2 separate regions of the Homo sapiens genome follow, and region 2 is linked to region 1. Evidence: fine-mapped expression QTL. Tissue or cell type: whole blood. Region 1 holds a variant in brackets; the other region holds the start of a gene. Each region is shown on its reference strand, or each on the opposite one.

Evidence for each region.
Region 2: it holds the start of RPL27, and the variant in region 1 is fine-mapped to the expression of RPL27 in whole blood (TOPMed, PIP above 0.99).

Annotation. Positions count from the first base shown.
Region 1 is chr6:151,145,518-151,160,792 of GRCh38, reverse strand. It overlaps LOC124901432 (a long non-coding RNA gene), which reads left to right and starts at 9,823. Exons shown (of 4, transcript XR_007059813.1): 1 at 9,823-9,904. The variant G/A (reference allele first, on the strand shown) is at 7,266.
Region 2 is chr17:42,990,594-43,005,868 of GRCh38, reverse strand. It overlaps RPL27 (ribosomal protein L27), which reads right to left and starts at 7,450. Exons shown (of 5, transcript NM_000988.5): 1 at 7,398-7,450; 2 at 7,038-7,120; 3 at 5,767-5,936; 4 at 3,086-3,196; 5 at 2,910-2,997. The coding sequence starts at 7,118. The coding sequence ends at 2,949. It overlaps LOC124904006 (a long non-coding RNA gene), which reads left to right and starts at 5,936. Exons shown (of 2, transcript XR_007065759.1): 1 at 5,936-6,148; 2 at 6,483-13,084. RUNDC1 (RUN domain containing 1) reads right to left here. Exons shown (of 5, transcript NM_173079.5): 5 at 10,727-15,018. The coding sequence ends at 14,153. RefSeq lists enhancers at 6,989-7,098, 7,169-7,408, 7,419-7,728, 6,694-7,893, 14,712-15,213.

The DNA of each region.
Region 1 (15,275 bases):
ATACAAATCATAAAACACAGCTTGCATGCAGAATTACTATGATGTGGGCATCTTGAATTCATTACTCCTGTGGTTTATAGGGTATATTTAAAATGTATACACTAAAGTGAATATAAACTTTATGGTTCATTTTGCCCAAGAGAAAGGGACGGATGAGAGGAAATTAAAGCTGTGCTCTGGCACACTCACCATGGAGCTTCACCCGCTCAAGGCAGCTGATACCGCTGGGTCCTGGAGGTCTGCACAGCGCCCCTTCCCGGGACTACCTCCCTTTGGGTGGTGCTCAGTTCTCCCGGGGCTGACAATTGTGTTCTCAAAGTTTCCCAGGCATCACTTGAAAATCTGCTCATACGAAACCACCTCAGAGCTCGGAGCGAAATTGCTCACGTTTTTCAGGTGTATGGATGCAATTATACAGCTAACAATCTGGGGCTGTTGCTCACCTGTGCATAGGCATTTATCAATCATGCCTAAACCTTCCAGGAGATGGGTCCAGAGATAAACGACTTCAGGTGTGACCATGACATTCAAGGCTGGGAAAGCAGACTTGAAAAGTTTCATTTAAGGGATCTTGATTTTCAGGTGAGGCAGAACCCCCTAATGTAGAGAAGCTCTGATGAAATGCAGGGCAACCCCGGTTGTCGTGGCAGTCTAGCTCTTGTTAAAGTTCTTAAAGTCACTTGTGGTCACTAAGTTGTCTGGATGAAATAAGCAGTACCTGCTAACTTTATGGATAAAATAAATCATAATATTTAAAATACTCAGGATAGTGATTGACACATAGTGTTGTATGCTATTTGTTTCAAAGTCTGGTTTCCAAAGCAATGTCATCTCTCTCCTCTTCTCTCTCTCTCTCTCTCTCTCTGTCTCATCTATGGAGAGACATTGGTTTTGAATCGAGGCCCTACCACATTGCAACTATGCAATTTAAGGCAGGTTAAATAATCTTTCTTTGCCTCAGTTTCTTCATCTGTGCAATAGAAATACAAATTGTACATTGCAATAATATTTTGAGGATTTCATAAGTGACTATTTAAACTCTTAAAGTCTCTATAAAATAAGAGCTGCAGGCTGGGTGTGGTGGCTCACTCTTGTAATCCCAGCACTTTGAGAGGCCGAGGTGGGAGGATTATTTGAGCCCAGGACTTTGAGACCAACCTGGACAACCTAGTGAGAGGCTGTCTCTATTAAAAAAAAAAGAAAGAAAGAAGAAAAACTCTGTAAGTGCTGGGTATTATAATTCTTATATCTGGATCGATGTTAATAATAGTATTTCTGAGTGGTAGAATCATAGATGAATGTCTACTTCATATTATGTTTGGTAAATTGAAGCTTCCCCTGGCTGGGGTACATTTTCTTGGTCTTCCTATGCTTTGTGTGCTTAACCCTGTGTCTGGCTGATAGTAGCTGCTCAATAAATGTTGAACTCAGCTGCTAAGATTGCATTGCATGGGCCAGGTGTGGTGGCTCATGCCTATAATTCCCAGCACTTTGGGAGGCTGAGGTGGGTGGATCACTTGAGCTCAGGAATTTGAGACCAGCCTAACCAACGCGGTGAAACCCCGTCTCTACAAAAAATACAAAAATTACCTGGGCGTGGTGGCGCACGCCTGTAATCCCAGCTACTCAGGAGACTGAGGCAGGAGAATTGCTTGAACCTGAGAGGTGGAGCTTGCAGTGAGCCAAGATTGCACCACTGCACTCCAGCCTGGGTGACAAGAGTGACACTCTGCCTCAAAAAAAAATAAAAAATAAAAAATAAAGACTGCATTACGTAATCAGTACTTCTCCCAGATACCATATCCATGGTCATTGTCTCATGTTTTCATAGCTTTCTAGGAAGTTTCTGGAACAAAATTGGTATGAGATGAAATAAAGCCTAGTAAGTACCAATTCACATGAACATATCCCTCACAAAATTGTGTCTCTTTTTCAAGACTGTGGAGGGCTTAGATAACAGGTTCTGGGCTTGTGCTCTCAAGGGAGGACCCTCTGTAAGCCTGTGCTATGTGATTTGCCATAAAAACAACAAACAAACTACCAGTTAATCATCTGCATATGTGGCCCATGTACTGCTGGCCCCCGGGAATGGTAAGTAAATGGGATTTTTATGGAAGTCAGACCTCTGAACAGGCAGTGAAATTGGCAGTCATGGAAAACATAAACAGCAAAAAACACGATTACAAGAAAGCATTTATGGTATGATTTCATATGCATGTAAAACTACATATATAAATCTTATATGCATATACGTAGGGAATGTCTTCAAATACAAATGGTAGTTATCTTTGGTAGTGGGATTTAGTGCAGTTTTTTCTCTTTGTTTATACTTTTTCTATACAGAAAAAATACACATGATTATATATGAGGAAGAAAAAAATAATCATGCATCAAGGGAACTGATTTGTTCAATAGACTTCAAAAATTAACTGTAAGGGGCTGGGCGCAGTGGCTGACGCCTGTAATCCCAGCATTTTGGGAGGCTAAGGCGAGAAGATCACTTGAGCCCAGGAGTTCAAGACCGGCCTGGGCAACAAAGTGCTACCCCCTACCTCTACAAAAAATTTCAAAATTAGCCAGGCGTGGTGGCACACATCTGCAGTCCCAGCTACTTGGGAGGCTGAGGCAGAAGGATTACTTGAGCCCAGGAGGTGAGGCTGCAGTGAGCTGTGTTTGTGCCACTGCCATCTAGCCTGGGTCATATAGCCAGATCCTGTCTCAAAAATATATATCTATATAAAACAAGCAAACATTAACCATAAGGATTTGAAATCTGTTGTCTAGTAGGTTTTCTAGACTTAGCAAATAACAATACAGGACACCTAGTTAAAGTTTGATAAACAATTGTAAGTATGGCCCCATATAATATTTTGGGCATTGCCTCTTTTTTTTTTCTCCAAAAAATGAAAAGAAATGTAAAGTAGGAGTATAACTTCTTCTACACTTCTACCATTATTTATATTTCTTCTCATTCTTTTCTCTGTAAGTAGGTTTTACATGGTCTGGAGTCATACCTTGTGTGTGCAGTTTTCATTCACTTAACAAGTCATATTGGTTCCCTATTGGGGACCAGGCGCTGTGCTAAGCACTGGGGATACAGTAGGAGTAACACAGGTTTGCTGTTGCCTCTACTCAACATAAAATCATTTTGCACAGTTTTTGCATTAAAAACTTTAAATGGATGCATAATCTGCTATCAAGTTATTATATTCCATTTTACTTAACCAATCTTCCATTGTGGCTTAATTTATTCATTTGTTTGCATATTAGCTTTTTGCTGTTGTAAATAATAGTGCCCTGAATGGATTTGTACATCGAGTTTTCTCATGTTTTTGAATTATTTTATTTTAAGGATAGACACTTAAAAATACTATTTTAGGCGGGGCACAGTGGCTCACACCTGTAATCCTGGCACTTTGGGATGGGGAGGCAGCTGGATCGCCTGAGGTCAGGAGTTCGAGACCAGCCTGGACAACATGGTGAAACCCCGTCTCTACTAAAAATACAAAAATTAGCCTGGCGTGGTGGCGCATGCCTGTAATCCCAGCTACTCAGGAGGCTGAGGCAGGAGAATTGCATCATGAACCCAGGAGGTGGAGGTTGCATTGAGCCAAGATCGCACCACTGCACTCCAGCCTGGGCAAGAGTGAGATTGTCTCAAGAAAATTAAAAAAAAAAAAAAAATTATTTTTAGGCTAGTTGGAATTTCATAATAATTTCTTTAGAAAAGGTTAATTGGCCAGAATGACAAAAAGAATCAAAGCCTATATATTTCCTTTTACTTTATTTTTATTTTTATTTTATTTTTTTGAGACAAGGTCTCATTCTATTGCCCAGGCTGGAGTGCAGGTGCCATCTTGGCTCACTGCAGCCTCAGCCCCCCAGGCTCAAGTGATCCTCCTGCCTCAGCCTCCCAAGTAGCTGGGACTACAGGTGTGCGCCACCACACCTGGATAGTTTTTTTGTATTTTTGGTAGAGACAGGGTTTCACCGTGTTGCCAGGCTATTCTCAAACTCCTGGGCTGAAGCAATCCACCCAGCTCATCCTCCCAGAGTGTTGGGATTACAGACGTGAGCCACTGCATCCGGCCAAAGTCTATATTTCTTTGCCTGCAAATACGTTTAATTATCTTTCCATATATGTGTTCACAAATTTTATTTGGCGGGTTGTCTACTCATTTTGTGGGGAAGGTCTTGGTGATGTTTCTTACTTTATGAAATCATATAAAAAGGCTATTAAGTTTGTATAATATTTATTTTTGCACTTTTCAGCCTATTGGTGCCTTATTTTTGGTTATTGATTTTATTTTTATTTTTTACTTAGGGCAATTTAACATTGTATCTATTAAAATCTGTTCATCTTTTGATTTCAAGTGTTTCTTAGTATAGAATGTCATTTTTCTATCTAGATGTTTACCACCTATTTAATTTATTTTATTCTTTTTTATATTTTAAAATATATTAAAACCTTAAATCATCTGGAACTTATTTTGGTATAGGTTTGTAGTGAATAACAATAGGATTTTTATTCCAGATGACCTATATATTATTCCCAAAGAAAACTGCATTTTTCTTTCTTTCCCTTTGACTTTTATAATGGCTTTTTCTCATGTATTTAATTTTATTGTATAATAAGGCTTATCTTTGGATAAGCCTTGTATACCATTATCACACTGTTCTTTATTATGAAATCTAATAGCATAGTATTAGAAAGTATTATAGTATTATATGATAAAGTATACAGAATGCAAATTATTACAGTTTTACAATATACTGTTAAATGTTAGAGTAATTCTCCTAATTCTAGAGTCTTCTTTCTGAAAAAAATATTAAGTTCTACAAAACTTCCATGGGGATTTGAGTTGGAATAGCAGTAAAGGTATACATTAATTAGATAACAATGGACACTTCTCCACCCAGGGACATGAATGTCTCTATTTATTCAATTCTCCTCCTATCTATATTTGTTAACCAAACCTTATCTTGATTTCAGTTTACATTTCTCTTATGAAGGTTACACATGGGTCTCTCATACCATCATGGCTGGGTCCCACTAGATCCACCCTGATCTACTCAGATCAGCTCCACTTTTGTCTGCTTTATATATTGTCTCTAAATCATCTTTTAGAGTTATGCAATTTAACATGATGTGAAAAATCACTGGACTAACCAATGTGTTAAAATCCCTTCCACTCAGAAAAGCTTGATTCTATTGTCTCCAAAATGCAGGGTGCTTTCTTGCCTCTGCCTTTGCTAATATTGTTCTTCCTCCTACCTGAAGTGGATACCCACTCCAAATCTACATATCCCCAGCTATTTGGGAGGCTGAGGCAGGAGGATTGCCTGATCCTGCAGAGGTAGAGGCTGCAGTGAGCCCTCCAGCCTGCACTCCAGCCTGGGCAACAGAGTGAGACTCTGTCTTAAGAAGAAAGAAAGAAAGAGAAAGAAAGAGAGAAACACAAAGAAAGAAAGAGAGAAAGAGAGAAAGAAAGAAAGAGAGAGAGAAGAAAGAAAGAAAGAAAGAAAGAGAGAGAGAGAAAGAAAAAGGAAGGAAGGAAGGGAAAAAGAAACAACAGGACCAGCCTGGGCAACACAGCAAGACTCTATGAAAATTTAATTTAATTTAACTCAAAATAATAATAAATAAAATATATAAATAAAAAAAATAAATAAAAATAAACACCTTCATCAATGTCGCTCCTAAATCTTTTGGAGATTTCATGTATTACTGACAGACACACTCGTGGTTAGCATGAACAACTTAAGATTTACTGAAACATCCAGATTTATCCTGTGAAAATACAGTTAACTTCTTATATTCCAGTGAGTGAAAAGGCATGGATTTGAAGATTTGTCCACAGAGTGATGAATGGCTGTACTCTCAGTTTCTATCTGTGTGAAAATCTACTCGTCCTCACAGTCACAAGTTCTTTACATACTAGAAAATGTGTGAGAGATGGAGGTAAGGGGTGGCAGCTGTGGAGGCCAAAGTGGGTTTTTTTTTTGGTTTGTTTACCAACTAGATTTTGCTCTGGTTAAGACCGCATGGTACAAACCAAGAGAGATTTGTGTTTTCCCGTGTAGCAAGACATTCTAAATAAATGTTCCTTGAAGAGGGGACTTTTACAAACTTTGGCCTGGAACTTTGGCAAAAATCCAAAAAAAAAAAAAAAAAAAAAAGAAGGAGTGGACAGGAGCAGCATGGAACTGGGCTGGGGGGTGGAGTCAGCAGTTGAGCTCACAGCAAACAGCTTTTGAAGGTATTTTTTCAGCTCTTCTTTGTATTAATATAAGATATAAAGAAAAGCAACCTTTTTTGAGGGTCTGCTGTATGTCTGAAGTGCCCCCCTAACCAAGTCTCAGTGTGTAACCTCAATTTGACAACTGTTGGATACAAAGCCTTAGGCTAAAAGTCTATAATCCCACAGTCTGTAATCCCCTCCCTCATCCCTCTTGCCCCATTTATCAGGGCATCCATCTGAACTTCACAAGGAAAAGAACTTGGTACCTTTGGCCCCTTCTCAACCATATAAAAGCACCAAAGCAGGACAATGTAGGGATAGAAAGTATCTTAGAAACTACTAGTTTGCCAGGGCTACCAAATAATGTATGCCAAACTGGGTGGCTTAAAATAACACAAACACATTGTCTCAGAGCTCTGGAGGCCAGAAGACTGAAGTCAAGGTTTTACCCATGTTCTCTCTGAAACCTGTAGGGAAAAACCTTTCCTTGCCTCTTCTAGTTTCTGGTGTTTTCCAGCAATCCTTGATGTTTTTCGGCTTGCAGCTGTATCACTCCACTCTCTGCACCTGTCACCACATGGTCATCTTCTCTCTTGTTTCCCTGTCTCTGTCTCTGTGTCTCTTCTCTTCTTCTTCTTCTTTTTTTTTTTTTTTTTTTTTTTTTTTTTTTTTGAGGCAGAGTCTTGCTCTGCCACCCAGGCTGGAGTGCAGTGGTGTGATCACAGCTTGCTGCAACCTCCGCCTCCAGGGTTCAAGCGATTCTCCTGCCTCAGACTCCCGAGTCGCTGGGATTACAAGCGTGCGCCACCACGCCCAGCTAATTTTTGTGTTTTTCTTAGAGACAGGGTTTCGCTATGTTGGCCAGGCTGGTCTTGAACTCCTGAGCTCAAGTGATCTGCCCACCTCGGGCTCCCAAAGTGCCGGGATTATAGGCGTGAGCCACTGCACCAGGGCCAGAACTTTTAATATATCTCTTGCAGGGAGGGGACACAATTCAACCGGTAAGAGAGAGCATCTTCTTCC[G/A]CTCATTCCTTTTCGTTTGGTTTTGAGGAAAGTTAGGATCTCAGAGGTTGAGTTGGAGAGTCAATCTGTATGAAATGGTACATTATTATTCTTGGCAGTCCTAGTTTCAGGAGACTGGAAACCCATCTTGCTCTAGAGTAGGCTGAAAGGAGTTCTTGGATCACAGAACCTAAAGAAGAATGAACCATCCGACTGTGAGAGGTCCTCATTCCAGCCTGGCTTCCGAAGCTACTAGAACTAGGGGCGCCAGTGGGTCAGGATGTTTCTTATTCTCTTATTTGGGCTTCATTCTCTTTTGAAAGGATTTCTTTTAATGGTAGGTAACGTAGTCAGTTCCCAAGTTTTATCCTGGGAGTTCTTAGTTCTAGAAAAGGATTGCCTTCAAGGCTGGATCCCAAAGGCAGATGCCCTTGGGGAGAGAGCTGGTGGCCCATGGGGATAGGCGAGCTTGATCTTGGACCAGTGAACTTCCACCAGAGGAAGGGAGCACCATAAAAACAGGCCAGTTTCTGACCAGGCACAGTGGCTCACGCCTGTAATCCCAGTACTTTGGGAGGATGAGGCGGGCGGATCACTTGAGGTCAGGAATTTGAGACCAGCCTGGACAACATGGTGAAACCCTGTCTCTACCAAAAATACAAAAAGTAGCCAGGCATGGTGGTGCATACCTGTAATCCCAGCTACTCGGGAGGCTGAGGCAGGAGAATCACTTGAACCCAGGAGGTGGAGGTTGCAGTGAGCCGAGATGGCGTCACTGCACTCCAGCCTGGGCGACTGAGCGAGGCTCTGTCTCAAAAATAAACAAATTAAAAAAAGGGCAGTTTCTGCAGGAGTCTCACAGGGGAAGACAAGGGGAACAGGAGGCTGAGGAGACAATATGAGAGATGTCCACTATAAAAAGATAATTCAAGGGCGAAAATCCAATTTTTATGTAAATTATCCAGATGGGCTCCAATGCTTATTCATATTCACCAAAGAAATTGCTCCGTTCTCTATTTTATGTCATTTAGGAGATCAGGTTTATGTCTGTGCCCCAGGGAAAGGACCCATGACATTTACTACATTTGAATTCAAATAGTAATTTTAGATTAATTTGAAAATTGATTAGGTCAGATGTTTCTACAGACATGTTTTTGCCCTTTTATGCTATAGGGGGTCAAATATCCATTTATGGGTCCAGGATTTATTTGTAAAAACAGACTTTCAAGTCAATTACTAACATCCACTGGAGTTTAAACATGACCATTTTTAAAGTGCATATTTTCTCAAAAATATCCTTCTTTTAATTTCTTTTAAAGCATTTGTTTATGAGAAACAGGTAACTATGCAAACTCTAGGACTGTCATAAATGAATTAAATGTACTTATTTCTGGATTATCACTACTGATTGTCAGGCTTAATCAGTTAGAAAGTAAAAGTAATTTTTACCTCTTTCTGCTAAACTAGAGGACAGAGTGAGTATGGGAAGATGACCTTTTTCCTAGCAAAACGGCAAATTCTCAAGGTCCTAAATGACAGATTGCTCTCCTGAGTCCCCGGCTTGGCTCCCAGTTGCCAAAAGGCCATCTTCATCGGGATATGTGCGGACACCGCACACTCAGCTCGTGCAGAACAACTTCACCCCAAGGCTCCTCCAGCACTCGCTCCGTCAATGCCATCATCATCATCCATGCTGGGCAAACCTAGGACCCAGACTCCTCTTTCTTTTCCCCCCTTTCCCTGCCTTCCATGTGTCCTCCAAGTTTGACTCAGGACACTACCTATGTCAGTGGTTTCCAAACTTGTCTGAGGATCCGAATCCCCTGAAAGACTTTTTTTTTTTTCTTGAGATAGCTGGAGTGCAGAGCTGTGACGTTGGCTCACTGCAACCTCCGCCTCCTGGGTTCAAGCAATTCTCCTGCCTCAGCCTCCCGAGCAGCTGGGATTACAGGCACATGCCACCATGCCTGGCTAATTTTTGTATTTTTTGTAGAGATGGGGTTTCACCATGTTGGCCAGACTGGTCTTGAACTCCTGACCTCAGGTGATCCACACGCTCAGCCTCCCAAAATGCTGGGATTACAGGTGTGAGCCACCGCACCCGGCCCTGCTAAAGGACTTCTAATGAATTCAGATGTGGAGTCCCCTCCCTAGAGACTGAGTCAGTACATCTGGAAGTAGCCTGAGCATCTGCATTTTAAAGTCCTCCCCAGCCTCCTAAGGCGATTTAATAATGACCAGGATTTAGGACCAGCTGTCCTAAGCATCTCCATCCCCACTACTGCTGCCCTGGTTCAGCCCCCAGCACCTGCAGCCCCGCTTCTGCACTCAGGCTCTGCATTCTCTCAGCCATCCTCTACCGCATTCAACAATACCACAGCACACACATTGAATGCCTATTTTTTTCCAGGTACTTTGTTAACCAGTGGAAGCACAAAGATGAACAAACCATACTCCTCCCCTCAAGACAACTCTTTCGTGAGGGAGATAACCCAGGAAATAGGAGTCTATTCATGAGACCGCTGCTCTAACTAGAAGAATAGGAAGTACCAGAAGGTCACAAAAGAGGAGCTGATTAGCTCAACCTGAGAAAGTCTCCCAAAGCTTCACAGCGGAAGGAATGCTGAAGTGGGGATGAAGAGGTGTTGATCAGAAAAAAAGTAAGGATGGGAGGGAGGGAGAGGACATTTCAGACAGTGCTAAGCATGGGGGTAATAGGACTACACTGGTTTTTTTTCTTTGTTGACTTGTAGTAAGCGTAGTTTCTGTTCTTATAGGCAAATGTTGGGTTCCTTCTTTCTTTTTCTTTTTGTTTTTGTGGATACATAATAGGTCTATATTTTTATGGGGTATATTAGATTTTTTTTTGAGACAGGGTCTTACTCCATCGCCCAGGCTGGAGTGCAGTGGTGCAATCTCAGCTCACTGCAGTCTCCGCCTCCCAGGTTCAAGCGATTCCCCTGCCTCAGCCTCCCAAGTACCTGGGACTACCAGGTGTGTGCCACCATGCCCAGCTAATTTTTGTATTTTTAGTAGAGATGGGGTTTCAGTCCTAGCGCAGTGGCTCACACCTGTAATCCCAGCACTTTGGGAGGCCCAGGTGGGCGGATCACAAGGTCAGGAGATCGAGACCATCCTGGCTAACACGGTGAAACCCCATCTCTACTAAAAATACAAAAAACTAGCCAGGCGTGGTGGTAGGCGTCTGTAGTCCCAGCTACTCAGGAGGCTGAGGCAGGAGAATGGCATGAACCCAGGAGGCGGAGCTTGCAGTGAGCCGAGATCAAGCCATTGCACTCCAGCCTGGGCAACAGAGTGAGACTCTGCCTTAAAAAAAAAAAAAAAAAAAAAAAGATGGGGTTTTACCATGTTGGCCTGGCTGGTCTCGAACTCCTGACCTCAAGTGATCCACCCGCCTTGGCCTCCCAAAGTGCTGGGATTACAGGAATGAGCCACCACATGGGGCCCATTCCGTGCTTTACAACTCCCAGCTGTGGCAGTCAGCTAGGCAAGCCACTTAACCTTTCTGAATCTGTTTTATCATCTTGTAAACCAGGTTTAATAATAATTACCAAGTAGGCTTGAGGATTTAAAGAGAAAAATGCTTATTAAAACATTCCCAGCCTAATGTTCTCTTTCTTGACATGGGTGGCTACACAGGCATCTGCTTTGTGAGAATTCATTGAATTGTATGTTTTTTTGTGCACTTTTCTGTTTGTGTGTTGATGTCAATTAAAAAGATGTCAATTAACAATTGTCTAGCTTGCTGGCGTCTTAATAAATGTTCTAGATATTGGTTCTCTTTCCTCCTTGTTTTTTCCTGTTGGAAGCAGATTACCAGAGCTGGGTTGGATGGCTAATGCAGGAATGACATGCCAACATTTGCAAGAGGTGGAATGTGCTGTTACATTGAAGTACAAAGAGCAGTAAGATGAAATTTAATAGGAACCAACATGCAGGAGGTTCAAAAAGAAACAGCACAAGTAATGAGTGGAAGATGTGATTTAAGAGGAATTATGAAAAAGCTCAGAGATTTTAACTGACGCAAACGTAATCTGAGTCAACAGCCCAGCTTTGCCACTAAACTCTGCGACCCTCTGCAAAACAAGCAAGCGGATAAACCCAAACTGTAACCAAACCAAAACAGAAATCTCAATACAAGGTTAGGTTTCTGTAGTGGGGTAATGCTCAAATCCTAGAAATAAATACACCCATTGATTTCTTCATCCATCAGATCATATCTACATTGTAGGCTTTCAGTCATGGAAGCCTCTTCTTAGGATGGGCCTAGACCATTGACCATGTCCAGAGTTCAGTGACTAGAATCCTGAGAGATCTTAAAACCATGGCTGGGCACAGTGGCTCACACCTGTAATCACAGCACTTTGGGAGGCCAAGGCGGGCAGATCACTTGAGGCTAGGAGTTCGAGATCAGCCTGGCCAACATAGCAAAACCCTGTCTCTACTAGAAATACAAAAATTAGCTGGGTGTTGTTGGCTCACACCTGTAATTCCAGCTACTCCAGTGGCTGAGGCACAAGAATCGCTTGAGCCTGGGAGGCGGAGGTTGTAGTGAGCTGAGATCGTGCCACTGCACTCCAGCCTGTGCAACAGAGCGAGACTCTGTCTCAAACAAAACAAAACAAAAAACAAAACAAAAAACCCTCATGTCAATCATATAAAGATCTGGAGAATTTTTAGCTTTAAGAAAATATTTGGAGGCTGGCTGGGAGGGCTTCACATATTTGAAAAGATTTTGTCAAGAGTGATTGGATTTATTCTATGTAGTTCAATAAAGGAAAACAGTTCAACAGGTGAAAGTCTGGAGAAGCGTATTTTGGGCCATTTTAAGGAATGAGGTAGCTCATGACTGGGGCTACCTAAAAATGGAATGGATTCCCTGCCTGTTGCTGGCAGTATTTAGCAGAGGCTCTGTGGCTACACATCATGGCCATTATAGATTGTATTTTTATTTTAGGTGGGATGACAGATTATATGCCTCTGTTACGGGTTAAATTGTTTCTCCAAAAAAAGATAGGTTGAAGTCCTAACCTCTAGTACCTGTAAATGTAACTTTATTTGGAAATAGGTGCTTTGCAGATGTGATCATATTACGATAGGGTCATTAGGATCCAGTAAGACTGGTGTCCTTATGAGAAGAGACACATGGACAGGGAGAAGGCCATGTGGAGACAGGCGTGCAGAGGGGAGGTGGCCATGGAGCACCGGAGGCAGAGAAATGTGTCATGCAGCCGCAGGCCAGGAACGCCAAGCATTGCTGGCAACAACCAGAAGGCGGGAGAGAGAGCACAGCTCTGCTGACACCTTGATCTCAGACTTGCAGCCTCCAGAACTGCGAGAGAATACATTTCTGTTGCTTTAAGCCACTCAGTTGGTGGCACTTGGTTTTCCTAGCAGCCCTAGGAAACGATTACAGCAAAACCCCTTCCCTTTCACAGCCTTCAAATCCTTATTAGCCAGATGGCAACAATACAGGCAGGCCTGCCCCACCAAGTTATCTGACATACAGATTGCTCCGGCCTTCTGCAGCCACCCCCATGGTGACCGTCTTGCCCCTCAACCCTCTTGTCCTTGGCACCCCCTCAGCAATGCCCATGACTGCTGAGTGCCTGGGAGACCCTGTGCCCCATTTTGCCCTTCCCTTCTAGCCCTGCTTTCAAGCCCAGTGTTGCCCAGGGCTCTGAGTCTGGGGGCTCTGCGAGGCCCACGGTGGAGGCCAGCCAGCTACAAGAGCTCTGTCTTGCTGTCTGTAACAATCAATAGACATTGAGATCTCTAGCCCCCGACAGAGGGAAAAGGCTTTCTGAGATGCAAACAACTCACCTACAAATGAACTTCTGGAATACACCGTCATTTGTGAGTGCAGGAACAGTCTGTGTCGGACGCTCGGGCCCAGTTTGTAGATAAAGTTGTAGCAACACAGCATATTGTAACATTCACCAGTCCAGAAAGGTGCTGAGAGGGCTCAGAAAGCAACTCATTTTTCCTCCCACTGAAACTCAGGAATGTCCTTTGAGGACTTTTGCTGAGATATGCGAATGATTTGCTTTTCAAAAAAACTGTAAGTCAGGACCTCCGTGTGATTCTCACCCAAGTCCTTCTTATCATGTGCAGAACTTCTCTGGGTGCCTGATTCTCTCTGTGGTGGCAAAGAGACGGGGCCTGTGTGGGCCAAGGCGCAGAGCCAGAGAGGGAGGGTTTGGGGCGTTCTCCCAAGGACAGCAAGTACAATGTGGCCCTCCCTCTGACCTCCTTTGAAAGACATCGAGGGCTTGGAGTCCTTGCGTCCCCTACAATCCAGTGTGTCCTTGATGGAGTGATGCTGCTCTCCCTGCATTCCACCTCAGCCAAACAGCTCCACTTACCCCCTTTATATATTGGGGTGTCACATAAGATTGTACTTGGTAAGAATGTCCCCTGCTCACATATGTATGCATGTGTGTACCAGTTTGAAGGCCACTCTTTCTAGCCTGGAAGCACATCTCAATGGGTTTCATGGTGGCCCCTGCAAAGACATGCCTTGCCTTAATCCCTGGAGCCCATAAGGTGATGTTCTTTGGAAAAAGGATCTTTGCAGATGTAATTAAGTTAAAGATCTTGAGCTGAGATCATCCTGACTTATGTGGTGGGCTGTAAATCCAATGACAAGAGTCCTTATAAGAGAGAGAAGAGAAGAAAACACAGATCGAGAGAGAAGAGGAGGAAGTCTTGTGAAGACAGAGGCAGAGATTGGAGTGATGCAGCCACAAGCCAAGGAATGCCTGGGACCACCAGAAGCTGGAAGAGATGAGGTAGGATTCTCCCGTGGAGCCTTCAGAGGGAGTGTGGCCCTGCCAATCCTTTGATTTCTAACTTTTTTTTTTTTTGGATGGAGTCTCGCTCTGTTGCCCAGGCTGGAGTGCAGTGGCCCAATCTCAGCTCACTGCAACCTCCGCCTCCTGGGCTCAAGCGATTCTCCTGCCTCAGCCTCTTGAGTAGCTGGAATTACAGGCGCTGGCCACCATGCCCAGCTAATTTTTTGTATTTTTAGTAGAGATGGGGTTTTGCCATGTTGGCCAGGCTGGTCTCAAACTCCTGACTTCAGGCTATCCACTGGCCTTGGCCGCCCAAAGTGCTGGGATTACAGGCATAAGCCACCATGCCCAGTCTGATTTCAAACTTCTGGCCTCCAGAACTAAGAGAAATTTCTGTTGTTTGAAGCCACCACGTTGGTGGTACTTTGTCAAGGAGACTAGCAGAAGCATTGTGGGGCACGTGAATGTGCCGTCCCTGTGAGAAGGGAACAGGGGATCCTGCCTGTTCCTAACCCACCACTGGGACCTACCTGCACACACTTGGTGCTTACCCGTGATCTCAGCACCATGTCAAAAGGAACATTGTAATTCTACTTCCGGGAATCTACCCTGAGGAAATAACTGAGAAAACGTGCAAGGCTGTAACTCTAAAAATGTTCATCACAGTTCTGCTTGGAATAAAGGAAAGCTGAAAACAATCCACATGTCTCACCATAGGGGATCAATTAATTAATTATGCTGCAGTCATACAAAACAATCCTATGTAGCTGTTAAAATAACATTACAGAAATGGAACTCTCGATGTGGAAAGATGTTACTAATTTACTTGTATAAAAATACATTATGGTGAGCTTCAAATCACTGATAAGTTAAAAAAATACATTACGGTATGAACTCATAAAAAAATACGTAAGCACATGTATTACACATTATACCTAGAAAAATCTAGAAAGAACGGCTGGGCGCGGTGGCTCACGCCTGTAATCCCAGCACTTTGGGAGGCTGAGGCGGGCGGATCACGAGGTCAGGAGATTGAGACCATCCTGGCTAACACGGTGAAACCCCGTGTCTACTAAAAATACAAAAAATAGCCAGGCGTGGTGGCGGGTGCCTGTAGTCCCAGCTACTTGGGAGACGGAGGCAGGAGAATGGCATGAACCTGGGAGGTGGAGCTGGCAGTGAGCTGAGATAGCGCCACTGCACTCCAGCCTGGGCG
Region 2 (15,275 bases), not on the chromosome of region 1:
GAGTGACAAGAGCGAAACTCCATCTCAAAAAATAATAATTGCTGAATGAATGAGAAACACAATCAGGACAGATAAAGTCCACAGTTCAAGTTCACAAAACTGCCAGGCGCAGTGGCTCATGCCTTGTAATCCCAGCACTTTGGGAGGTCCAGGCGGGTGGATCACGAGACCATCCTGGCCACCATGGTGAAACCCTGTCCCTACTAAAATACAAAAAATTAGCCGGGCCGGATCACACCACTGCACTCCAGCCTGGGCAACAGAGTGAGATTCTGACTAAAAAAAAAAAAAAAGTGCCAATCCCAGCAGCTGGGCCCACTGGTAACATGTGCCTATAGTTCCAGCAGGTTGAGGCAGGAGGACTGCTTGAGCCCAGGAGTTCGAGGCCAGCCTGGGCAACACAGTGAATCTTGTCTCTTAAAAAAAAAAAAAAAAAAAAAAAAAAGGCTGGGTGCAGTGGCTCACGCCTGTAATCCCAGCACTTTGGGAGGCTGAGGCGGTGAATCACTTGAGGTCAGGAGTTTGAGACCAGCCTGACCAACATGGGGAAACCCTGTCTCTACTAAAAATACAAAAATTAGCCGGGCGTGGTGGCATGCGCCTGTAGTCCCAGCTACTCGGGAGGCTGAGACGGGGGAATCGCTTGAACCCGGGAGGCGGAGCTTGCAGTGAGCCGAGATCGTGCCACTGCACTCCAGCTGGGTGACAGAGCGAGACTCTGGCTCAAAAAAAAAAAAAAGAAAAAAGTTCACAAAACTGTTAACAGTGGCCAGCAAGGAGAGCTATCGTCTGCCCAACACGCTTGTGCCTTACATGAATTAACTCTTCAAAACAATGCCATGAAGTTGGTTCTATTTTCTTCACTTTACAGATGAGAAAATTGAGGCACAGAGCATTAGAAACTTGCCCAAGGTCACAGGGCTAGGAATCAAAGCATGGATCCAAACCTGGTAGGAACAGTATTTACACTTGGGCCTTGAGGTAGAGTGGAAAAAAATTTGCTGTATTTTTCCTCAAAAGTTTTAAATTCAGCCCCATTTCTGTGACCCTGAGTAGGCAAGCTACTTAATAGAAGTCTGTCTCAATAGAGATGCCTTAATACTTAAGTGTGTGAAGATTCAATTAAAAAGTTTCCTGGCTGGGTGCAGTGGCTCACACCTGTAATCCCAGCACTTTGGGACGCCAAGGTGGGTGGATCATGAGATCAGAAGTTCAAGACCATCCTGGCCAACATAGTGAAACCCCATCTCTTCTAAAAATACAAAAATTAGCTGGGTGTGGTAGCACACTCCTGTAGTCCTAGCTACTTGGGAGGCTGAGGCAGGAGAATCGCTTGAACCCCGGGGCGGGGCAGAAGTTGCAGTGAGCCGATAGTGCCACCTCGCTCCGGACTGGGTGGGTGAAAGAGCAAAACTCCATCTTAAAAAAAAGTGGCTGGGCGCGGTGGCTCACGCCTGTATTCCAGCACTTTGGGAGGCTGAGGTAGAACGATCACAAGGTCAGGAGATCCAGACCATCCTGGCTAACACGGTGAAACCCCGTCTCTACTAGAAATACAAAAATATTAGCCGGGCATGGTGGCAGGCGCCTGTAGTCCCAGCTACTCGGGAGGCTGAGGCAGGAGAATGGCGTGAACCCGGGAGGCGGAGCTTGCAGTGAGCCGAGATCGTGCCACTGCACTCCAGCCTGGGCAACAGAGCAAGCCTCTGTCTCAAAAAAAAAAAAAAAAAGTTTCCTAGTAACCTAGCCCAAAGTTTTTTCCAGTTACTCACCAATCCTACTTTTGGCCCCTTCCCGCCACCCCGCCCCCTCTGGTTCCCAAGTGCAAGTGTGGTACCTAGCAGACTTGGCAAACTGGCCTGTTTGAATCTTAGTTCCCTCTAGCGACAGAACCATTCAGATGGAGCACCTATTTCATTCATGAAACATGACTAGTTACAGTCCATTGAGAGATAAAATGCCAGATCCTAAGAACCAAATGTCTCTCCTGCACTACACAGTAGTGGCACAACCCAATGCCCCAAAGCTCCTTTGATCACTTTCTTTCAAGTCTCTGCCAGCCAGGCCATTTGAGGAGCACTCCCTTGTCCTATTAAACAGCTGCTCTAGGCTCAGGGATTCACCAAAGGCATCTGTCGTTACCACCAGGAGCAGGTCTCCAGGGTGGTCCCCATCTCACCTACACCAGTACCAGTGTCACCTGAAAACCTGCTAGAAACTCAGACCTACTGGATCAGTCTGAGGGCAGGATTTCAGCAATCCGTGGTTTAACAAACCATCCAGGTGACCTCTATCTGTGCTAAGGTTTGAGAATTTCAGGTTAGTGGTTCTCAATCAAAAATACCTGATCCCCACCACTCAGGGGCCTTTGGTTGTCACAAGGAGGGGCAGAGTGTGTGTGGCAGAGGTTCTCCTGGCATGTAATGGGTAGAAGCCAGGGAGGCTACACAATTCTTCACAGGGATTATCAGGCTAAGGACAGAGGCAGCATAAATCTCATTAAGGCAGATTTAACATTTTCCCAGCCCCTCATCCATCACCCAGCGTCTTTTTTTTTTTTTTTTTTTGAGATGGAGTCTTGCTGTTGTCAGACTGCAGTGCAGTGGTGCTATCTCAGCCCTCCCTGCAACTTCCGCCTCCCGGGTTCAAGCAATTCTCCTGCCTCAACCTCCCGAGTAGCTGGGACTACAGGCGTGCACCACCAGGCCCAGATAATTCTTAGTATTTTTTAGGAGAGACAAGGTTTCACCATGTTGGCCATCTCTTGACCTGGTGATCCGCTCGCCTTGGCCTCCCAAAGTACTGGGATTACAGGCGTGAGCCACCGTGCCCAGCCCACCCAGTGTTTCCTATTCAATAATGTTCTCCTTTTCACAGTCTGGTAATACATACAGCATGCAGACACAGGCTTTTTTTCTTTATAATTTTTAATGATCAAAACAAAGCATCTAAAACCGCAGTTTCTGGAAGAACCACTTGTTCTTGCCTGTCTTGTATCTAGAAGGGAAAAAAAGAGGACACCAATGAGGAAAGGAATGGAAATAGTGAAACCATACTCCACCATTCACTACCAAAGCCTACTTACCTCTCTTCAAACTTGACCTTGGCCTCCCGTCGGGCCTTGCGTTTAAGAGCAGGATCTCTGAAGACATCCTTATTGACGACAGTTTTGTCCAAGGGGATATCCACAGAGTACCTGGGGACAAAGGTGGAGAGGCAGGATTAGCCCACATACTGCCGGGGCCCCTATACAGCCCAAATCCTTGTGGGACACTAGGGAATCAGGGTCTGACTCCTTAGAAGCAACCATCAAAAGCCATGTCCCGATGACATTATCTGAAAATTCACACTTTTTTTTTTTTGAGACGGAGTCTGAATCTTTCGTCCAGGCTGGACTGCAGTGGTGTGATCTCAGCTCATTGCAAGTTCCGCCTCCCGGGTTCACGCCATTCTCCTGCCTCAGCCTCCCGAGTAGCTGGGACTACAGGTGCCCGCCATCAGGCCTGGCTAATTTTTTGTATTTTTTTAGTAGAGACGGGGTTTCACAGTGTTAGCCAGGACGGTCTTGATCTCCTGACCTCGTGATCCGCCCGCCTTGGCCTCCCAAAATGCTGGGATTATAGGCGTGAGTCACCGCATCCGGCCTGAAAATTCACTTTTAACATTTATTGGATTCAAGCCAATAAAATGTAAAATTCAATGTTTCATTCTCAATTTCCCACAACTACTTTATTTTTCTAGCTAAGAATCATCAAATGAGGCCCTCCCCCACTTTTTGAGACACAGTCTCGCTGTTGCCCAGGCTGGAGTGCAGTGGCGCAATCTCGGCTCACTGCAACCTCCGCCTCCTAGGTTCACGCCCTTCTCCTGCCTCAGCCTTGCGAGTAGCTGGGACTACTACAGGCGCCTGCCACCATGCCTGGCTAATTTTTTGTACTTTCAGTAGAGACGGGGTTTCACTGTGTTAGCCAGGATGGTCTCGATCTCCTGATCTCGTGATCCGCTTGCCTCGGCCTCCCAAAGTGCTGGGATTACAAGCCTGAGCCACTGTGCCCGGCCAAATTAGGCCTTCTTGACTTTCATCATGACAGTTAGCTAACTTTCTACTTGAAATCATTTCCTTATTGTTCAAGTTCTGCCAATGCAGTCACTCTCATGACAGCCCAAACACTAGCTGCCTCAACCCCACCACATCCCAGCACCCAAGAAACAGCTCTCTCTGCCCTTTTATTATTATTTTTATTTTTTGAGATGGAGTCTCGCTCTGTCACCCAGGCTGGAGTGCAGTGGTGCCATCTCAGCTCACTGTAGCCTCCACCTCCCAAACTCAAGCGATTCTCCCACCTCAGCCTCCGGAATAGCTGGGATTACATGTGCCAGCCACCATGCCCAGCTAATTTTTTTTAGTAGAGATGAGATTTCATCACGTTGGCCAGGTTGGTCTCGAACTCCTGACCTCAAGCGATCCACCTGCCTCGGCCTCCCAAAGTGCTGGGATTACAGGCGTGAGCCATGGTGTCCGGCCTCTCTCTGCCCCTTTAGGTCAGCCAACCCAGAGTAAATGTGCAATACCAGCAGCAAACTTTAAGGTGCATGCTGCTGGGTTCTGGCAATTATTGTTCAGGACTTTCTCAATTCTCGCACCTCTTTTGCTGGAGGTGCAGTGGTGTGATCTCGGCTCCCTGCAATCTCCACCTCCCAGGTTCACCGTGTTAGCCAGTGCGGTCTCGATCTCCTGACCCTGTGATCCGCTCGCCTCGGCCTCCCAAAGTGCTGGGATTGTAGGCGTGAGCCACTGTGCCCGGCCTTGCACCTCTTTGAGACGGAGCTTTGCTCTCCTTGCCCAGGCTGGAGTACAATGGTGTGATCTTGGCTCACTGCAACCTCCACCTCCCGGGTTCAAGCGATTCTTCTGCCTCAGCCTCCCAAATAGCTGGGATTACAGGATTACCATGCCCAGCTAATTTTGTATTTTTAGTAGAGACAGGGTTTCACCATGTTGGTCAGGCTAGTCTCAAACTCCTGACCTCAGGTGATCCATCCGCCTTGGCCTCCCAAAGTGATGGGATTACAGGCGTGAGCCATTGTGCCCGGCCTCTTGTACTTCTTAAAAAACACTTGTACTGGCCGGGCACGGTGGCTCACGCCTGTAATCCCAGCACTTTGGGAGGCTGAGGTGGGCAGATCACGAGGTCAGGAGATCGAGACCATCCTGGCTAACATGGTGAAACCCCGTCTCTACTAAAAATACAAAAAAAAAAAAATTAGCCAGGTGTGGTGGCAGGTGCCTGTACTCCCAGCTACTCGGGAGGCTGAGGCAGAAGAATGGTGTGAGATCCCGCCACTGCACTCCAACCTGGGCGACTCCGTCTCAAAAAAAAACAAAACAAAACAAAACACTGTACTAAGACAGTGTATGTCCCCAGACTAAAGGGCCCAACAGGTGAGTAAAATTAATTGGGGAAGACTTGCTTTCACGCACTCACAGACTTTTTGAAACCTATTGTATTTATCCTTGAGGGTGGAACAGTGGAAGAGGGCAGATCAGACCCCATGCCTGTGTTTACTGTGGATGGAAAACAATCTTTACCCAACACTTAAAAGATGGATCAAAGGCAAAACTGGAAACCATAGCCACTTTATGAGTTGAAGATGAACATTTTGGAAATGATATCCCTTCCTGGTGTTGGAATGGCTGCAAGGTCTGTCTCATTATTCAACAGAGCAGGGAGAAGAAATTTAAATTCTAGTTCTTGAAATGCTCACCTTGTGGGCATTAGGTGATTGTAGTTATACACTTTCACAAAAGATTTTATCTTTGATCTCTTGGCGATCTTCTTCTTGCCCATGGCAGCTGTCACTTTGCGGGGGTAGCGGTCAATTCCAGCCACCAGAGCATGGCTGTAGGGGCGATCTGAGGTGCCATCATCAATGTTCTAAATGAGTAAGAATTACATTTGTTATTCACTGAGGGCCTATTTAGGCCCTGTGTTAGAGGTAGTGCAGTGTCCAAAAAATATTTCCACCCTCAGGTCTCCAAGATCCACCATTATAAAGAGAAAAATCACAGAAAGCTATGAGAAATGACCAAAGAGAAACAGAACAGTGTTTATCTCCATCAGGAAGCATCTGGAACGGCTTACTAGAGGTAAGAGATTTAAAAGTAGCAACAGTTAACATTTAAGAAGTACTTGCTATATGCCAAGCACTGCTCACAGGACTTGGTATCTATTCACTTGCTCCACTGCTAGTGAAGTGTACAGCCAAGGTTAAGACACCACAGCCTAACTCCAGAGATCAGTCTCAGGAGATGGGAGAGGGGAATCCAGGGGTACTCCAGTGTCCCCACAACAACAAAACGCAGTGGTGTATGTGGCCAGAGCCTAGGGAACTCTCTCAAGAAGCTACAAAATCATGGATAAGAGGAAAACAGTGAGGGGCTATGTGACCTTTCTAAAAGCAATTTCCTCCTCTTCTTACAGATTCCCAGCTGCAGCACTTCAGGTAAATAACAGAACACCTCCAAACCTTAGCAACAGGAAGGAACCCCCTATAGCTGGGGATGGTGGCACGCACCTGTAGTCCCAGCCACTCGAGAGGCTGAGATGGGAGACTCGCTTGAGCCCGGGAGGTCGAGGCTGCAGTGATCACGCCACTGCACTTAGCCTGGACAGAGATCCCGTCTCAAAAAAAAAAAAAAGAAAAGAAAAGAAAAGGAATCCCCTATGATTACTTCAAGGACTGCACATGACAATACCTGAAAGGCAGTGGGAGCACATAGCAAGCGTGCAATGTCAGCCACTATTACTATATATTTAAAGCCTCTGGTGGAGAAGGCTTTATGCGTTGGGAGCCCAATTCAGCTCACATTTGCTTTTACTGTGCTTCTTCCTCTCTCAAAAACTCTCCCACGTTCACCCTGACCGTGCTCACTGGCTACTGCCCCAGAAACAGGCCTTGAATTCCAAGCCTGCCCGCCCCGCCGCAGCCAGCCTGGTCCCGGCATGCAAGGACGCAGAGTCCCGCGAGGCTGATACCTTCACGATGACAGCTTTGCGTCCGGAGTAGCGTCCAGCCAGGACAAGCACCACCTTCCCAGGTTTCATGAACTTGCCCATTTCTGCAGAGAGCAAGGAGAAAGGGCCACTTAAAAATCCGTAAAGCCAAAGATGCCCAGAGCTGACTCCTGCCAGCAAGCCCAGGTCTTGGGCCGGAACTTCAGACTGTGTTCACTGTCGCCTTGGTCAAGGCCGCCCGAGGGCCCTGCTCGCAGGACAGGATCGGATACGTAGCCGCCAGAGACCTAGGGAAGGAATGCACCCGGCGCCGCCCGGACCTTCGACCCCCAAGCCGCGGATGGCAGCGGATTGAAAGATTCAACCCAAGCTTCTACTTACCGGCAGCAACCACCCGGCCCTACCAGCAAAAAGGAAAGAAGGACACTTCCGCTAACCTTTCACCCCGGTGAGGAGTGACCTCACTTCCTGTCCCGCCCTTCAGGCTTTGCCACGCTGATTGTGTGGTGCTGAGTCTCGTGTTGCGGGCGGAAGAAGCTCATGAGGGAAACGCAGGGCGCGGCAGCTCAAGTATTCGAATGAAACTTTATTAGCAGCTCCAGCAGTAGACAAGAGCAAAGGAGACTCCTCCCGGCCGACGGAAGAGCTGGGAGGGCGACTGTGCTGTGCGCTCTGGACTCAGCAGCTAGGCTTTGTTGTAGTTCCTTTCTCTGGCGCTAGGAGGGGGAACACAATCTGAAATTTACTTTTTCTCTTGGGAGACACAGGGAAAAAAATAGGGCATTTATTGGTGCCTGTCGGGGGCACTGTTAGCTAAAGAGGGAGGGACAAAGATCAGTAAGGGTGGCTGGTCCGATAGTAGTGGGTTATCAGAACTTATCAACGTTAGGGTCACTAAAGTTGGTATACAACCCCCCACTGCTAAATTTGGTTTTAAAAAAACAAACAAAAAGGATATTTACCCCCAACAGTTAAAGTCTAGTGGTGTCACTGACATTACCAACTAGAATAAGCATGAGGGAGGTAGAGGAGAAGAATGGCAGCTGCTTACCCTGTGCCAGGTCAGGTTAATCTATTTATGCACATCATCTGATTTGGTCATCATAACACTAAGAAATAGATACTATTATCTCCATTCTAGAGTCGAGGAAACTGGCTTAGAGAGATTTGCCCGAAGTCTATAGTGGTTAAATAGTGGAGCTGGGGCTCAGCCTCAAGCAGTTCAACTCCTGAACCCATACTGTTTACCATGTCACCATCCTGAGCAGCGATTCTCTCCCAGGCAAGATGTGAGCACTTTATACAAGCCGGCAGCCTGTTTAATCCTCACAACTCTGCATCTTGGGCATTCTCCTCCCATTTAGACATGAGGAAATTGCAATTCAGAGAGGATAAATTGCTTGTCTGAGGTTAATCCTAATCAGTGGCATAGATGGGATTCAAATCTAGGTCTGAATCTAGGTCTAGTTGGCTCTCAAACTGAATTATTTCCCATCACTCACCAGAAGAGTGTTTTCACATGGTACCTTATGTGCTTTCCGAGTTTAAGGGAAAGATAAACTATCTCACAGTTTTTGCTTATCTGAACCTATAGGATTTGTCTTGGGCAAGATGTGGAACAACCAGGATTTCATCAGTTCTCTCCTGAAGCTCTCCAGTGATACAATTTTCCCTGTATCCCTCAGGATCCCATTGCAATGGCTTTTGTTTTGTTTTTTGAGACAGGGTCTCGCTCTGTCACCCAGGCTGAATGGTGTGTAGCACAATCATGGCTCACTGTAGCCTCAACCTCCTGGGCTCGTGATCCCCCCACCTCAGCCTCCTGAGTAGCTAGGACTTCAGGTATGTGCCACCATGCCCGTGTAATTTGAAGAAAAAAACAAAAACAAAATCAAAGAACTTTTTTTTGGTAGAGATGGGGACTCACTATATTGCCCAGGCTGGTCTCAAAAACTTCTGGGATTAAGTGATCCTCCTACCTGAGCCTCCCAAAGTGTTGGGATTACAGGCGACGCAGCACCGTGCCCGGCCCCATTACAATTTTTTTTTTTTTCAGACGGAGTCTCATTTTGTCACCCAGGCTGGAGTGCAGTGGCGCGATCTCAGCTCACTGCAACCTCCACCTCCCGGGTTCAAGCGATTCTCCTGCCTCAGCCTCCTAAGTAGCTGGGACTATAGGCTCCTGCCACCACACCCGGCTAATTTTTATATTTTTTGTAGAGATGGAGTTTCGCCATGTTGGCCAGGCTGGTCTCGAACTCCCAGCCTCAAGTGATCCGCTTGCCTCGAACTCCCAAAGTGCTGGGATTACAGGCATGAGCCACCACGCCTGGCCTCCAATGGTTTTTAAAATGTCTTTTTCTTATATATTTCATTTTTTAAAGAGATGAGGTCTTGCTATGTTGCCGGGCTTGAATGCAGTGGCTATTGACAGGTGTGATGTAGCTTCAAACTCCTAGCCTCAAGCGATCCTCCCATTTCAGCTTCCCAAGTAGCTAGGACTAAGCCACCTTACCCTCCAAATCAAATCAGTAACTAAATCCTCTGAATTTTGTCTTATGTCTTTTATTTTTGAGATGGAGTCTCACTTTGTTGCCCAGGCTGGAGTGCAGTGGCATGATCTTGGCTCACTGCAATCTCCGCCTCCTGAGCTCAAGCAGTTCTCCTGCCTCAGCCTCCCGAGTAACTGGGACTACAGGCGCATGCCACCACGCCTGGCTAATTTAGTATCTTTAGTAGAGATGGGGTTTCACCATGTTGGCCAGGCTGGTCTCGAACTCCTGACCTCAGGTGATCCACCCACCTTGGCCTCCCAAAGTGCTGGGATTACAAGCGTGAGCCACCATGCCCAGCGGGATGCTTGTTATTTTTTTTGAGACGGAGTCTCCCTCTCGCTCCCAGGCTGGAGTGCAGTGGCGAGATCTCGGCTCACTGCAAGCTCCGCCTCCCGGGTTCATGCCATTCTCCTGCCTCAGCCTCCCGAGTAGCTGGGACTACAGGCACCCGCCACCACGCCCAGCTAATTTTTTGTATTTTTTAGTAGAGACAGGGTTTTACCATGTTAGCCAGGATGGTCTTGATCTGCTGACCTTGTGATCCACCCGCCTAGGCCTCCCAAAGTGCTGGGATTACAGGTGTGAGGCACCGCGCCTGGCCCCCGGGATGCTTATTAAAGAAGTATCTCCAACCTCAGAGATAGTCATTCTGGTCTGGAGTGGAGCCATATGATCTATAGATCTTATTTTGAGCAACAGCTTTAAACAACTCTTTTTCTTGAAAAGTTCTTCACTTTTCTTGAACTCCATTGTTGGCTTATTCAATAGTATGAACTTTCACTCCTTTCCTTCCTTACTACCTTTCCTGCAGCATAAATTTCTGACTCCCCCACCCTTCACATACCCCCTGGGCTGTTCCTTGTGTCTTTTTCTTCCTCTCCAAGTAACCAGGCAAAATCCTATTCAAATTCTATCCATCCTTCAAGGTTATTCCAGAATTCTCCCAGGCAGAATTAATCTCTCCTTTCTCTGGGCTCTCTCAGCAATCCAGTCTGTACTTACCTTTATTAGAGAACATAATCTTAGTTTGGATATGAGTGGTTCTCATCTCAAAGTGTGGTTCCCAGAGCAGCAGCATCACCATAACCTAGGAACTTGTTAGAAACCAAATTCTCAGGCCCCACCCCAAAACAACTCAATAAAAAACTCTGGGGATGGGACCCAGCAATCTATATTTTAACAGTCTCTCCAAATCTCCAATTGGTATGGTATCTCCTTTGCTAGACTGTGTTTGTTGAGGGCACGGGGTAGGTTTACTTTTCTCTTTCTTTAGCATCTAGTCTAGGCAGGCAGTTGCTAAGTGATCAATAGTGAATGAATGATTGGAGAGCACCTTAGACGGCTTTAACAATACTTTGCAGATCATACTTGTACAACACACCCTACATTTCCACTGCATACATATCCGTGGCTCTTGACCCTTCCATTCTTGCATATCCTTGGATCTGGGTGGACTGGCCTGCCTCTCCTCCCTTGTCCTGTCTCACCCTAAGTGAAGGACAGAGCTCTGTTCTCAGTAATGACAGATGATATCAGAGCTTAGCAGATATCTGACTGCAGGGATGCTGATGGAATTGTTGGGTTGTCTCAGTTGATACACACATTTAGGTTTCAAGAACTTAGACATGAAAGTCATGGCTGCCGGCCTGTCTCCCTGCAGCCTTGTCCTTTGGCAGCTGAAATTTCTGGCAGTTGTGTAGAAAATACCTTCTCCTCCCCAAAGTGAGGGGAGGAATGAGGGTGGTGGATAAAGGAGAAAGAGAAACCAAAATCTAGAAACAACATGATACAATGAAGTGAAAAGATAGACTGTGGGCTCTGGATTCAGAAAACTTGACTCCAAATCTCAGGTCTTCCATCATCATGTAAACCAGGACAAAATATTTAACCTCTCTGCAGTTCAGTTTCCTCAGCTGTAAAGTGGGGATAATACTGTCCCACTTTGTAAGTAGTGAGAATTTAATTAGAATGAGACAAATGAAAATGCTTCCTGTAATGCTAGCACAAAGCCTTAATACAAGTTTTGTTTTTGTGATTTGAAAAAGGCAATACTGGGGTGATCGCTGGGCTACGCCATATGGCTATACCAGTTACCACCCAAAGTGATATCCAGACAAGTGGATTTAAAAGTGCCAATCCTGGCTGGGTGTGGTGGCTCACGCCTATAATCCCAGCACTTTGGGAGGCTGAAGTGGGTGGATCACCTGAGGTCAGGAGTTCGAGACTAGCCTGACAAATGTGGTGAAACCCTCTCTATTAAAAATACAAACATTAGCCAGGCGTGGTGGCAGGCGCCGGTACTCCCAGCTACTCAGAAGGCTAAGGAAGGAGAATCGCTTGAACCCAGGAGGCGGAGGTTGCAGTGAGCTGAGATCACGCCATTGCACTCCAGCCTGGACAACAGAGCGAGACTCCATCTCAAAAAAAAAAGGTCTCCATTCCAAAAGCAGCATGTGTGATGACATCTGTTGTGGGGAGGGACTACAGGCGTGGGCAGGAGGAGATGGTCATGCCAAGGGGACTTTTTAGTGAATTTTTTCAGGCAAAAAACCCCTACTACCACCACCAAAGCTGAGATGATCCGTAACAGAGGACAGAGGATACAGGCAGTTTTCAAAAAAATATTGATCTGGATCAGATGGGCTGATAAGGCCCAAACACTTATAAACCAAAGCTGCAGATCTCTAAGGTCTTCAGAGAAGCTACACAAAATACTATGATTTCATTAGCATCCACATATGTATCATTTTCCACAACATTTTACAATTCTCTTGTTTCACAGGGAAGGTGAACTAATTATAATGAAATATCAGTAATGTATCTTAAATAAGTAACATGTTGCTGGAAAAAATTTAAGTTAAAATGCACTACATAATAGTGCAGAAACAAAGTGCAGGTGGCAATTTTAAGACATGAAAACAATGCTGAATCAGTAGTGTTTGGAGTGATACATTTTGCCCATTTTTGGCCAGTCCTAGAACAGTACTCACCACAAGCTGCATGCCAAATATGAACTAACGAGGCTAAAACACTGAAGACCAAATAGAACCACTCTAGAGTCTGTTTCACAATGAGATACTCCTCCCCGTTCTGGAAACAGCGATCTGCTGTAGTTCCTATCCTCCTGTGGCACCTATCCCTGCTACAGTACCTATAACCAGATGTCCTCCATCATCCAGCCTCCAGGACAAGTGGTGCTCAGTGAGTCACAACCTGAGGAACAGCTGCTGGTTACCGATTTGTATTCCTGTATATACTCGACTTGGGTAGCCAGGATTTTCTCGTTTGTCTTGAATATATTTACTTCTAAAAAGACTGTTAGTCTTGTTGGGAGGTGAGCAGAGGAATGTTTACTTGCTGGAGAACATAGTAACAAACATCACTTCTCACCCCTCATAAACAGAAAGCCCATTGTCTGTGCCATGAAAAGAGGACTACCTTGTCAGGAAGATTTTACTTACCTCTACAAGAAAAAGGACTCGTATTAAAATCGACCTGTGGTTACCACCCTTAGAAATGCTGTTTTCAGATATTCCTATTCCTAGTCTTAGAGGCAGCCATGGAATATATAGTCTCCTCTGACCTTGGGGTCAGGAAGAAAGGGAAATCTATTCATAAAAGGAATTTAAATTCTGGCCTAGGCCTCTCAAACCTGCTTCAAGTGAAAGAAGATAGCTTAACTAACAGGAGCCTCAAGTTGAATGTCTTTTTTTTTTTTTTTTTTTTTTTGAGATGGAGTCTCCCTGTGTTGCCCAGGCTGGAGTGCAATGGCATGATCTTGGCTTACTGCAGTCTCCACCTCTCGGGCTCAAGCGATTCTCCGGCCTCAGCCTCCTGAGTAGCTGGGATTACAGGCATGCACTACCCCGCCTAGCTAATTTTTGTATTTTTAGTAGAGATGGGGTTTCACCATGTTGGCCAGGCTGGTCTTGAACTCCTGACCTCAGGTGATCCGCCCACCTCAGCCTCCCAATGTGCTGAGATTACAGGCGTGAGCCACTGTGCCTGGCCTGATTCCTTTAATACAGGCTCAAGCACAAGTGCCCACACGTATACTGTGGGTACAACCTTCTTTTTTTTTTTGAGACGGAGTCTCACTCTGTCGCCCAGGCTGGAGTGCAGTGGCGCGATCTTGGCTCACTGCAAGCTCCGCCTCCTGGGTTCACGCCATTCTCCTGCCTCAGCCTCCCGAGTAGCTGGGACTACAGGTGCCTGCCACCATGTCCGACTAATTTTTTTGTATTTTTAGTAGAGATGGGGTTTCACCGTGTTAGACAGGATGGTCTCGAACTCCTGACCTTGTGATCCGCCCGCCTCGGCCTCCCAAAGTGCTGGGATTACAGGTGTGAGCCACCGCGCCCGGCCTGGCAGAACCTTCTTAACAAGAGGGTCCCTCCAGCACATCTTTCCGAGAGCTAAGTTGGTGGGGAAAACAGACTTTGCACTCATTTGGCCGACTGCCTGAGCAGGGTCTGGGAAAAATGCCTTTAACCCCACCTCTGATTCCTTGCTCCTATGCTAGAAGACTAGCACATCTATCCCTACTGAACAAGGAGCTTGTCTGGGGTTAGGGCACTCTCATCAAAAGGCATCTTTGATGTTTTTGAGCTGGCGCACAGCCAGATCTACAGGGAGGCTAAACTTGAGGCTGCTGAGGCGACTGAGCAGGTTGAGGGCACTCTCAAAGCCTGTGTGTGCCATGTAGCTCCAGGGCTGGTAGTGAGGCTCGATGAGTGACCCGGACTTGCAGATGAGGTTCACCCAGGACACCAGACGCTGCTCATTCAGTGCCATGCACACCAAGGCCTTCAATTCTGAGTCTGCACTGCGCTTAAAAGGGTCATGCTCTGTCAGCACCATGTGGATGGCTGTCAGTAGGCTCTGTTTGGGGGTGACAACAGTGCCTCCCGTAACAGGAAGGGCGAAGGACTGGGAGAGCTTCCGGGCTGGGGATTCCACATAAGCACGGCCGTTCTTAGCATGGTAGTACTTTACAAAGAGCTCCCACGGGTGCATGGCCTCTGGGGCCGAGGAGAAGGCTGGCAGCAAACAAGCAATAGGAGCCATAACAAGGCTCATCCCTGGGGAGGAGGCATACAGTCCATGGGCCAGCAGGTCCCTCACAGCCACCGTTAGCTCCTTCCGCACAGCCATAGTCAGCTCATCCTTGCCTCCCAGAGAGAGGTCCTGGAGGTTGGCAGAGGTGATGACATGGTCATGTGGCTGCTGCCTCAAGGCTAGCTGCTTCACTCTGTCCACTGACACCTCCAGCCTCTTCAGCAAGGGAGAGTAGTCTCTGTCAGCCTGGACCCTCTGCCACAGGGTTGGAGGGATCTGGCCTGTGGCACAACCAAACTGGCTAACAGCAAAGATCTGGAGCACGGCCAGCGCTCGCCGCATCAGGTGCAGCCCCGTCTCCCGGACTTTCTTCACATCCTCTGCCTTTGCTGCTTAGAAAAGACAGTGGCTCATCAGTGAGAGGCCATGATGGCACAGAGCTACACTCAACAAATCACAGGCTGAGATCAGTCTGAGCCACATGCTGGGTCTCACATGAAGGCAAGAGCCACCCAGGATGTAGCTGGACTTCCTTTTTCTGGTTAATAATAGCTGTATTGAGATATAATTCACATACCATATGATTCACCCATTTAAGGTGTTTAATTCAGTGGTTTTTAGTATATTCAGAATTGTATAACTGTCA